Regions from separate parts of the Homo sapiens genome. Here region 2 is linked to region 1. Evidence: fine-mapped expression QTL. A gene starts in region 1. The other region holds a variant in brackets. All regions are shown on one strand. Distances are from middle to middle.

Region 1 (5,378 bases):
GGTTCCCAAGCTGACCTGGTCCCCCAAAAGCTTTGTCTCTACTCAATAAAAGGTCAGCCTGGTATTGTTTTTGTTTCTTGATTGAGAGGCTTAGAATATTGTAAACAATTTTAAAAGGAATTGCACCCAGTAACTGCGACACACAGTAGTGTAAAAGTAGCCACAACAACCCTGCCCCAAGAAGCTTGGGATGTACAATCATAATTGTCTAAATACTATATTTGCAACTGCTAGCCTTAACAAGAACACAAATCCACCATGTTAATGATGGGACATTATTTTTCTAAAGATTAATTCACACCATGTGTTATTAATCAGCAGGGTAAATGAAAGCTCAAGCAAAAAAAAATGCTATCCTAGTCAAGCAGAACTTAATTGCATTATTGTTATTATTATGGCTGCTGCACTGGTTTCCCTGTGTCACTGGCTCCTCCACCACAAGTATTCAGACACACACACACACACACACACACACACACACAGAGCACCACAGCATGGATGGAAAAACAAAAAAGCCAGAGCCAGGAGGAAAAAAAGCCAGAGCCAGGAGGTAAGAACCATATGTCTAGTAGGAAGAGGGTTTTGAAGAAAAACGTTTGTCTCTGGAAAAGCAGGTCAAGTATGCACCCAGGCCGCCTTGAGAGTTATGCCTAGGCCGTTTCATTTCAGTGTCCCATCTTGCACAACGGTGGGAGCAGCTGTGGGAGATCACAGGAGATGCAAAGCAACACAAGCAACCTCATCTGTCTCCCCGACGGCCACACCAGAGTTTCCAGGTGGCGGGAGAGAGAGCTCAGTTCTCCCAAAGAGCACACAGCTAACCTGCCATCCAGAACATCACTTCCCATACCAAACCATTCCTTTTTCAAGGCCTGAAGGCAGGCAATTTGAACGTCCTGTAGCTGAGCACACCTCAGAAAACCGATTTTTGATCTAGAACTCGAGTCCTCTGCCAAAGTTCTAAGTTTTCATGAAAACAAAAGAAGAAAAGAAAACCCGCAGGCAGGCACAATCGTTGGCTGCCCGGATCACGAGTTTCCCTTGCTGCCTAGTCTTGTGGAGTTTAGAGGTAACCAACTAGGAAAAGAGAAGTGTCCAAGTGTCAGGAGTAGGAATGAGCCCAATCTCGCCTGTGTGTGTCCCTCCCAACATCCCTTAGAAGAGGCTGGGACACTAAAACTGGTAGTCTGGGGGACCAACAGCAGTCCAGATCCTGGCTGGGGCAAGCCGCCACACCCTCTGCAGCTCACAGCACAAGCCTCGGCTGGGAGGGGCCCAGACACTGTCCCAGCAGGAAAGGGAGAAAGAGGGGAGTTTTCAGAGTCCTGGATTTGAGGAGCTGGAAAGCTGGGAGAAGCGGAATGCAGGAGGGAGCGGGGGACCTGGCTGGGCGTGCAAGAGGAGGGGAGGGGTCGCCCGTGCAGTCAGGACAGCTCGCAACACGTCCCCGCAAAACTCCACATTTTTGTGGTTTAAGATTTAAGTCTAGAGGGAACGCGCTGAGGTTCTCCCCGGCCTGGGTTTCAGATGCCCCTGCTCCTCGCCAAGGGCCGGGGCGCCGCACTGCTGTGGGTCTCCGCTTTCCCTTTCGGGGAAGCTCCCCTTGGCCAAGCCGCGACGTGAGCCCTCCAAGTTCGCCTCCGCTCACCGCCCGGCGCGGCGCCCGCGGCCGGCCACATGCGCCCCATCTGCCGGGGACTTCGCAGGTCCCGGGCTGGCCGCCCGAGGGATGGTCCGCAGGGGCTCAGGGTGTTTTGTTTTGTTTTGTTTTGTTTTGTTTTTTTTAAAAAAAAAGCCTAAGCGGCTCGCCACCTCCTCCTCCCAGCCCGCGCCACCTTCTCTTCACGCCCACGCCGCACCTCCCGGGCACACGCGCCGTGAGGTGCCTCTCCAGCCAGACAATGGGTTCGAGGCTGGTTGGGCAGCCGGCCCTGAGCCCCCATCCCCATCCCGGGACCCCGAGAGACTGAGCGCGGGGGACTGCCAGGGGGGTGAAGAGGAGTGCTGGGGGGCCACAAAGGGGAAAGCGGGAGCCTCCCCCTCGGGAATGGAGGCTCGCTCCCGGCACGGGGTGAAGGGGAGGGGCGGGGGTCAGCTGCGCCGCCCGGCCCGGGGCCCCGGGTCCCCGCGCCCGACCGCCGCCGCGCACTTACCAGCACGATGGCAAATCGCTCCTCCAGTTCACCTGGCTCTGGCATCGGCAGCTTCAAAGGCACGTTGTGCGCCCTGAAATCGGTCTGCTGCGAATCCATGCTCCCTGCGTTGCCCATGTCGGCGGCGCGCCGGGGCCGGGGGCTGCTCCGGGCCCCTAGCGTGCGCGTCGGAAATCAGAACAGCTCCCGGCGGTCGGCTGCCGCCCGCAGGCGCGACCTGCCCGGCTCCCCGCCCTCCGCCGCGCCCAGGCGGGTGTGCGGCGCGCACCGCTCCCTAGCAGCGCTCCAAGCCGAGCCGCCCCCCGGCCTCCCTCATGCTCTCCGCCGCCCCAGCGCGGCCCCGGCCTCTTTTCCTCGGGAGGGGTAGTTGGGGCGCTGGGCGCCTATGTGCATGGTGCTCCGCTGGCACACCGCCCCCTGCCAGAGATCGCGGCCCCCGGCGCGTGGTCCCTCCTACTCGGCCTTCTGCCGGGCCCGCGGCCGCCGCTGACACTTCCAGCCCTAGCCGGCCACGGCTGCGCCTGCCTGGCTAGCACCTGGAGCAGACAAATGCAGCTCCGCGCTCCCCTACACAATGCCACCTCTCGCCCGGCGCCCGGCCCCCGCCCCCGGCCCGGCTCCGCCCACTCGCCCCGCGGACTGCCGGGACGCGTAGTTTCTCTCCAAAGTGTCCGCGCGCAGAAACCACGCCTGCTCTAGAGCGCCAGGCCGGGTTGGGACCATTTGCAGCAAAGGCGATCCGTAGTCTCTGGAGATAGCATATTGTCACTTTTGACCCTCCTCACCCCAACAGTGGAATACTTACATCGTGTATATCATGTTGACACTTGGTAGGCGGGTCTGACCATGACGGAATCGAATCAATGAATGAAGGAATGCATGCCTTCTGATTAAAATTCAGAAAATCGTTGCTGTTTTTAAAAGATCTAGTTCAGTAAGGAACTTCGAAAGCACTGGCAAAGTTCTGTTTCATAAACGGGGGGGTGGGTCCATGGGTGCTTGTTTATCGTTCTTTCTTCCATATATATGTTCTTTGGTGTGATTGAAATGTTTTATAAACAGATGTATAATTTATGGGTATATATAGTCAGACCCTAGGAGCTAGGTAAGGATTCAATTCAATTTAAAAAAAAAACCTGTCAAACACCTATTATGTATGGGATATTGTGTTCCTTGGTGGGAGAAAAAAGAGATTTGCCCTGCGCTGGAATACTTGCCAATCTAGTGAAGGAAAAAATGTACACACCCATATTTCATGTGAGATGGATATAATGATAGAGTGTTCTGGGAGACTTTGGGATGATCTTTGGCTGCAGCTCTCTTATTCCTTCACAGCAGTCTTGAGCAAGGTGTCTTACAGAAAAGATTGGACCTGACTCTGTCCTCTGGGGTGTATTTCAGACTATAACTACCCGTTCTGAAACCTCGGAAATAGAAATAGCCTTATAAGAGACTTTAGCCAACTGCTCATGTGAATGTTAAGGGCATACATCTGGTTGACTTGTGGCTGAACTTCTGCAGTTAGTCCTTTCTTAGTTTAAAGCAGTGTTTCTTAATCCTAGATGTGTATCAGATTCGCTTGGGAAGCTTTTTGTTAAAACTACACACACCTTGGGCTCTGCGTATTATCAGAATCTCCCTAAGCTGAGAGCCGAAGCCTGGGCCGGTGTATTTTCAACAAGCTCCCCAGGTGATTTTGATATGCAGGTAAGGTTGTTATCCTTTTAGTAAATAGCAAGTGTTTCTGGACAAGGTAGTACACCAAGATTCAATCAAGGACATTTCATTCATCTTTATAAACTTCAAGATACTTTAAACATAGTAGACGCCCAAGAACTATTTGTGGAATTGACAAGTGACTTTTTCCAAAAGCATATGACACAAATACACACAAATACATCATGTATGTTCTATTAAACCACTTCTAGTCTTTAAAGAATGGAGACAGTATAAATAAATTCAACTTAAAATTCTGAATAACTGTAACCTGTATTTCTAAAGCAGTGTTGTATCAAAGTTAATAGCAAATGTGTTACTGATCTGAGAGAAAAGCAGGGCGGTTTAGATACACACACACTCCAAACTAATGAAAATGAGAGAGAAAGAAAGCAGTTCGGACCAGGTGAAACATTTCTGACCCACAAATGTATTTATTTCCTTGTAATCTCTAGACATATACTTTGGATCTGATTGACTCACAAAATCAGCCCACCCAGAGGGTTGCCCATCTGGATAAAAAAGGCTGGAATTCTTTTCTGCAGTTGAGAAAGCCTTTTTGATTACATTTATGTCTCCCTGCGGCTATATTTCTGCCAGTAACCAAGACCTTTTTCTCCCCTTACGTCTTATCACATCTAGTCTCTCTCATAAGCTCACACTTCGAGGGAAGCCAAGGAAAAAGTGTGCAAATCTATGAACCAAAAGAACTTTCCTGCCATTTCAATGTTTGGAATCTCTAATATTTGGTTGTTATTTGTGATTATTAAGAGGAGAAATAAACACTCCATAGGCTTGTACAATTTCTATAAGAATCCATCAAAATCTTAGGAAATTCTTTGCGGGGAGACGGCATGGAGGGAAAGGAAAGAAAAGACATTTCTATTACCTTAATTGTAGCACTCTTCCTCCCCACAGAATTAAAATCAAGCAATCATTTAAAAATGTATATTCCATTTATTATTATTATTATATATGATTTGTTACAGCTCATGTGCAAAATATTGGCAAAAAAGAAAATGTCTGGGCCGGGCATAGTGGCTCACACCTGTAAGCCCAGCAGTTTGGGAGGCCAAGGCAGGAGTATTGCTTGAGCCCAGGAGTTTAAGACCAGCCTGGCAACATGGAGAAACTCCATCTCTAAGAAAAATGCAAAATTATTAAGAGACAAAAATGGCGAAGTATGATCTTCCAGGTACACTCCACTGGAAAAAAAAAGAAAAGAAAAAGAAAGCCAGTTGTATGGGCATGCATACAACTTCCTAAACACACTGTGTGTGCTCAATTCCCCAGGGTAAGAAGAGCACCATGCATGCAGAACGCCTACCCTAAGGGAAGAATCATGGGAAAGAGAGATGGGATCTCACTGTTGCCCAGGCTGGTCTCAAATTCCTGGCTGCCAGCTATCCTCCTGCCTTGGCCTCCCAAAGTGTTGGGTTTACAGGTGTGAGCCACTGTGCCAGTTTGATATTCTTTATAACAAAGCCTGCAAGATTTCTTCCCATACAG
Region 2 (5,378 bases), 280 kb before region 1:
AAAACCCACAAAAATAATAATAATAATAAAAGTTATTTGGGGGAGGCCATTCAAATAGATTGCTGCTACAAAAGTGGACATGTAAGTATGGTCATGCAATGTTGGCTGAGGCTTCAGGAGAAAGACAGGGTGAGCCATGTGTTAAACAGCTGCTTTTCACATAGGGCTCTAACACTGAGCAACTTCTGATTTCTAACATCTCCTTTAAATTCATTACAAGTAAAGAAAACCAGGGAGGCAAGGTAAGGAGGAAGAGTGGAGATTTACACTGATTGGGTTCAGCATATAACACAAATCTTCTAAGGGAAGATATACTGGGCCTGTAAAATTCTCTTTTTAAGCGGATGCCAGCTGGGTCATAGCGGCACTTTTAAAGGGAGGGTTTTTGGCTCACCAACTTGGCTTACCCACAGCCATGAAGAGACCCATTTTCACAGTGATGGGGAAAGGTGAAGGAAACTGAGCATATGCAGCACTCTTTAAAAAACATGTGGAGAAAAATAAATGAACTGTTCAAAGGAGAAAATAATAATCCTCCAAAAGGAGACACTTCATTTCATAATCAAGGAAAGTGCTCACCAGACTCACCAAAAGAATTTGGTCTTCATAATGCTTGGGTTTTTGAGAAGCACCATTTTTCTGTTAATTCTTTTACTACTGAAATATGTGGTTAATGAATGAACAAATAATCTCTAAAGGCCCTTAGAGTCATATTCAAATCAGTCTATGGCAAGAAAAATCCCTCAAAGAAAAATGAGACCCTGTCCTGTGATAGAGCTGACAACGATACTGAGGACATTCTTCAAAGAACAGGATATATGAGAAAGCACACCGATGTCCTTGAAAATGCCTATTGTTGAAATGACTCTATTAAGAATTTGAGTACCGTAAGACAGGAATGTTCAGACATGCATCACAGAGACACCAGCTAATCCTGTCCATGGGTTTGTGTGGACATAGTTGATAAGAAGATACCTCTTCGCCTCAGGCCAAATTCTCATATTTAATTTCCCTCTAATCATTTACGTAATGCCAATCATCAAACACCCCCACTCTGCTTGAGCCTGTAAGCAAGACTGCCAGGAAATGCACCTCAGCAGAAACTGAGCAGGTAAGTGAGCTAAAGCAAAGCAACAGATTCTATTTCATTTTACATAACACATCTGCTTTTTGGAAAAAACACAGAACAGCTTCTGATAGCTCTCTCTTGCAGGGTATGGCCTATTCCTATACTCCAAATCCTTAAATTTACCACCATAAAAGCTGACATTAATTCTGCTTTGCAACCAGCTGAAATGTAAGCAATTTTTCCTTTTCTGAGATATAGTTACATGAGAAATGTTTTCTTCCAGTTCTTCCACCCTCTCCAAGGCAGCATTCTTAGTTTCAGCATCTTCCAGTAGAGCTCCTACATCAAAAACATTGTCCAGGTAAGCCTGGATCTGGACTTGAAGCTTGTCACTCTCAGTGTGTTTCAGCTTCTAAAAACCAGAATAGGAGAGAACGTGGTGTTAGCTCATCTATGGAAATAGAACATCATTTCCTAAGAGTCTGTCTTTTTTGTTTTTTGTTTTGTTTTGTTTTGTTTTGAGATGGAGTTTCACTCTGTCACCCAGGCTGGAGTGGAATGGTATGATTTCAGCTCACTGCAACCTTCACCTCCTGGGTTCAAGCGATTCTCGTGTCTCAGCCTCCCAAGTAGCTGGGATTACAGGCACGCGCCACCACACCCAGCTAATTTTTGTATTTTTAGTAGAGACGGGGTTTCACCCTGTTGGCCAGGATGGTCTCGATCTCCTGACCTCGTGATCCACCCGGCTCAGCCTCCCAAAGTGCTGGGATTACAGGCGTGAGCCACCACACCCAGCCAGTCTATGTGTTTTCTTTTCGACAAATAGTCCAGCCCTTTCCAAGAGAGCTTAACATGTCATCTTCCTTAAGAGAATTATGGAGTGACTGCCTAAGCAGTATCATCAGATGACTTTCGGGTGAATACGCTCTCCCAAATGCACACACATTTTCCCCCAAATCCTTACTGCCCCATGTAGTTATATTCCTATGTAAAACATTTTGATATACATGAAATTGGGACAACAGAAAAATTAAAAGCAGCTTTAACAGGTTATAGTCATGGCCACATAAAACCTGAGGGGTATCTGTGTAGTGGAAAAGACTGGAGTGTTTGGTATCTTACCTGGTTAGTTACAGTGGTTCCAGTAGGGGAAGAAGGTTAGGCGAGAGGTGGGGCAGACACTGACAGAGTTTATACTTAGCCTTGGGGATTATTTTAGCACAAATTGCTAGAGCCCAACCTCCACACATCCCTCCCTAAGTCAGTATACAGCATGAACAGCTCAGGGCTCCCCAAGGCAGATCAGAAAGCTTTCCCCAATTCACTGCCTCCCAAACTAGGCATCCTGCAGGGACTCAGCTAGCTCTGGAAATTAGAGGTCAAATAAATCAGTGAATCTTCCCTACAAGTAACATAAGTCATGACTTTCCCTGGGGAACAGATGAGTGATTAGAATAATACCTGGTGCATGGATGATGCCAATCAACATTTATTGAACAAATCAATGGCTACTTACAAGGCTGGGTTTTTGTAAACTAGTGAAGCATTTATATAGCATACATTTACATTACTCTTCTAACCACCTCTATTAGGTTCCAGAGTCAACACATGATGAAGTTAAAGAAATACAGAGTTTTGACAAAAAATCTTACATTTTTAAGAGAAATTCCACTCTACATAAATTTTCAGAAAAATGGATTTTCCCCTAGGTTTAATCTGGAATTCTACAATACAGCTTATTCTGAAGAGAGAGTGTTCTGTTTTCATTTATGAGTCACAAGTGAGAATGGCTTCTAAATAAGGGCAAAGGCTAGAACAAAAGGAGAAGCAGCTTAATGGGATTTTTCATGAGATTCACAATGAATAACAGGTGTTCAGTGATAAGTGGGTACCTGCCGTTATATTCTACAGCATAAACAAGCTCTGCTCAGACACCACAAAACCAAACCCAAAACACCGCTAGGAATTTATACATCCAATTTTTGTTCAAATACTGATACTTTTAGAGCATAGGAGAAAAAGGGATAGACAAACCTTGATCTCAAAGTAAGAAAGAGTCTTTCTGTACAATATTCTGCCAGTGATATAAATGAGCCTTTAAATAAAAAGGAAAGCAATTCAAACAACATTTTAATGGAAATCTATTACGCCTCTCCCTGAGTAGTCTTTAGACAACAGTAGGCCCATCTATTCAAGGGCAGCCCAGCCAGTCTAGG[A/G]AGCAAGGCCTTCAGGTTGAGAGTAACCACCTCTGTGATTCCGTCTCCTAATAAACTGAGGGTACAGTCTGTGCAATCCCTTGGGTTTATCTCTAACAAAGATGGGCAACTGAATTCCTGAGATGCCCAAAGGAAGTACTTCTATATTCTTCACAGCTGGAAACAGGCTTGAAATTCAGGTCACCGGCTGGGTGCATTACTTGAGGCAGGAGTATGAGACTAGCCTAGCCAACATGGTGAAACCCAGTCTCTACTAAAAATACAAAAATTAGCCAGGCATAGTGCCTGTAATCCCAGCTATTCAGGAGGCTGAGGCATGAGAATCGCTTGAACCCAGGAAGCAGAGGTTGCAGTGAGCCAAGATTGCACCACTGCACTCCAGCCTGGTTGACAAAGTGAAACCCTGTCTCAAAAAAAAGGAAGGAAATTGAGGTCAACAATTCTTGCTCTATCACTAGACCATTCCTATACAAAAGGGAAAACAAAACTGCCTGGATCCTCAGGTCCACTTCTTTTCCGTTTTAGACACAGGGTCTCGCTCTGCCACCCAAGCTGGAGTGCAGTGGTGCAATCACAGCTTGTTGCAGCCTAGAAATCCTGGACTCCAATGATCCCCCCACTTCAGCTTCCCAAGCAGCTGGGGCCACGGGCACATACCACCACACCTGGCTAATTTTTTGGTGTTTTGTATAGATGGGGTCTCACTATGTTGCCTAGCCTGGTCTTGAACTCCTAGGCTCAAGTGATCCTCCACCTCAGCCTCCCAAAGTGCTGGAATTACAGGTGTGAGCCATCAGCCTTTTCAAGACCATTTCTGATTTTCACAAGTTTCTGTTTCTTAACTGAAGAACTTCAGGGAACTGGCTAAACTCTTCTGCAAGGGAGTGAGAAAAAGGGAAACTTTAAACCTCCTTCTCCTAAGAACTAAAAGTGGAACTTCTAAAGCCACAAACACTTGAAGCAGAATTTAGCAGCTTCAGGAGGAAGTCTCTGGTGTCCATTTCCTCATTATTTTTTTTTTATGCTCTAAGCACTGACTCATCACTCTACAGTCTTGGCTTGACTTTCTCTGCCCAGATGGGGTCCCCGGAGTAACCAAGAACACAAATTGCCCAATAGCCCAGATGAAGGATGCAATGAGACTTGACCCAGATGAAGCTCAAAAGGAGAGGAAAGCTGCAGCAAGGCTGCAAGAGGTTATCTGACTCCCGTACTAAAAGGCTGCTAGCAGAAGATGACCTGAGATCCCAGGAGCCCTGCAAGAATCCAGCATCTCTGGCAGAGTACATCACTCAGCTCAGTTCCCTTTAACTAGCACTACAGTAGTTGACTGCATAGAGCTTTAGGCATTCTTTAGCTGCTATGGAAGCGTACCTTTGAGGGCAGGCAATAATAAGTCAATTCTTATATTGGAGCCAAAGGTCACAGCTATACTCACGTCCAAGTATTCGTCCAGGCCTAATTTGGTAAATTCATACTGCAGGTGAACTCTGAAATTCATATCTTCTACTGAATGGACTACAATATTAATAAACTGCATAGAAGCCACCTGAAATGAAATTGTCAAGGGGTTAGATGGGCTCCAAACTTTTTTCTCAGTTTAACTGCAGACATGTGCTTTCAATTTCATAAAAAAGGCTCACTTACCGATTTCCTTTTCCTTCATTTCATTGGTTCTTTAAAAATATATATATGGTTTTTTTTGGAAATGGAGTCTTGCTCTGTCGCCCAGACTGGAGTGCAGTGGCATGATCTCGGCTCACTGCAACCTCCGCCTCCTGGGTTCAGGCGATTCTCCTGCCTCGGCCTCCCGAGTAGCTGGGATTACAGGCAGGTGCCACCACGCCCAGCTAATTTTTGTATTTTTAGTAGAGATGGGGTTTCACCATGCTGGCCAGGCTGGTCTCAAACACCTGACCTCGTGATCCGCCGGCCTGGGCCTCCCAAAGTGCTGGGATTACAGGCATGACCCACTGCGCCCGGCCTCTTTAAAAATATTTTATACTTATTTTTAAATTCAAAAGTCACAGAGGTACCACAATAAGACACCACTTCGCACCCACTCAGATGGCTATAATAAAAAAGAAATA

The links. PIP is the estimated chance that this variant, and not a neighbour inherited with it, causes the effect.
Region 2: its variant is fine-mapped to the expression of FMNL2 in whole blood (INTERVAL, PIP 0.98).

Annotation. Positions count from the first base shown.
Region 1 is chr2:152,332,496-152,337,873 of GRCh38, reverse strand. It overlaps FMNL2 (formin like 2), which reads right to left and starts at 2,700. Exons shown (of 26, transcript NM_052905.4): 1 at 2,154-2,700. The coding sequence starts at 2,270. RefSeq lists silencers at 1,641-1,740, 2,251-2,900.
Region 2 is chr2:152,610,954-152,616,331 of GRCh38, reverse strand. It overlaps FMNL2 (formin like 2), which reads right to left. Exons shown (of 26, transcript NM_052905.4): 11 at 4,727-4,837; 12 at 1,332-1,481. Among named protein-coding and RNA genes, the nearest start is that of PRPF40A, 100 kb to the left of the region's middle. RefSeq lists an enhancer at 3,951-4,030. The variant A/G (reference allele first, on the strand shown) is at 3,289.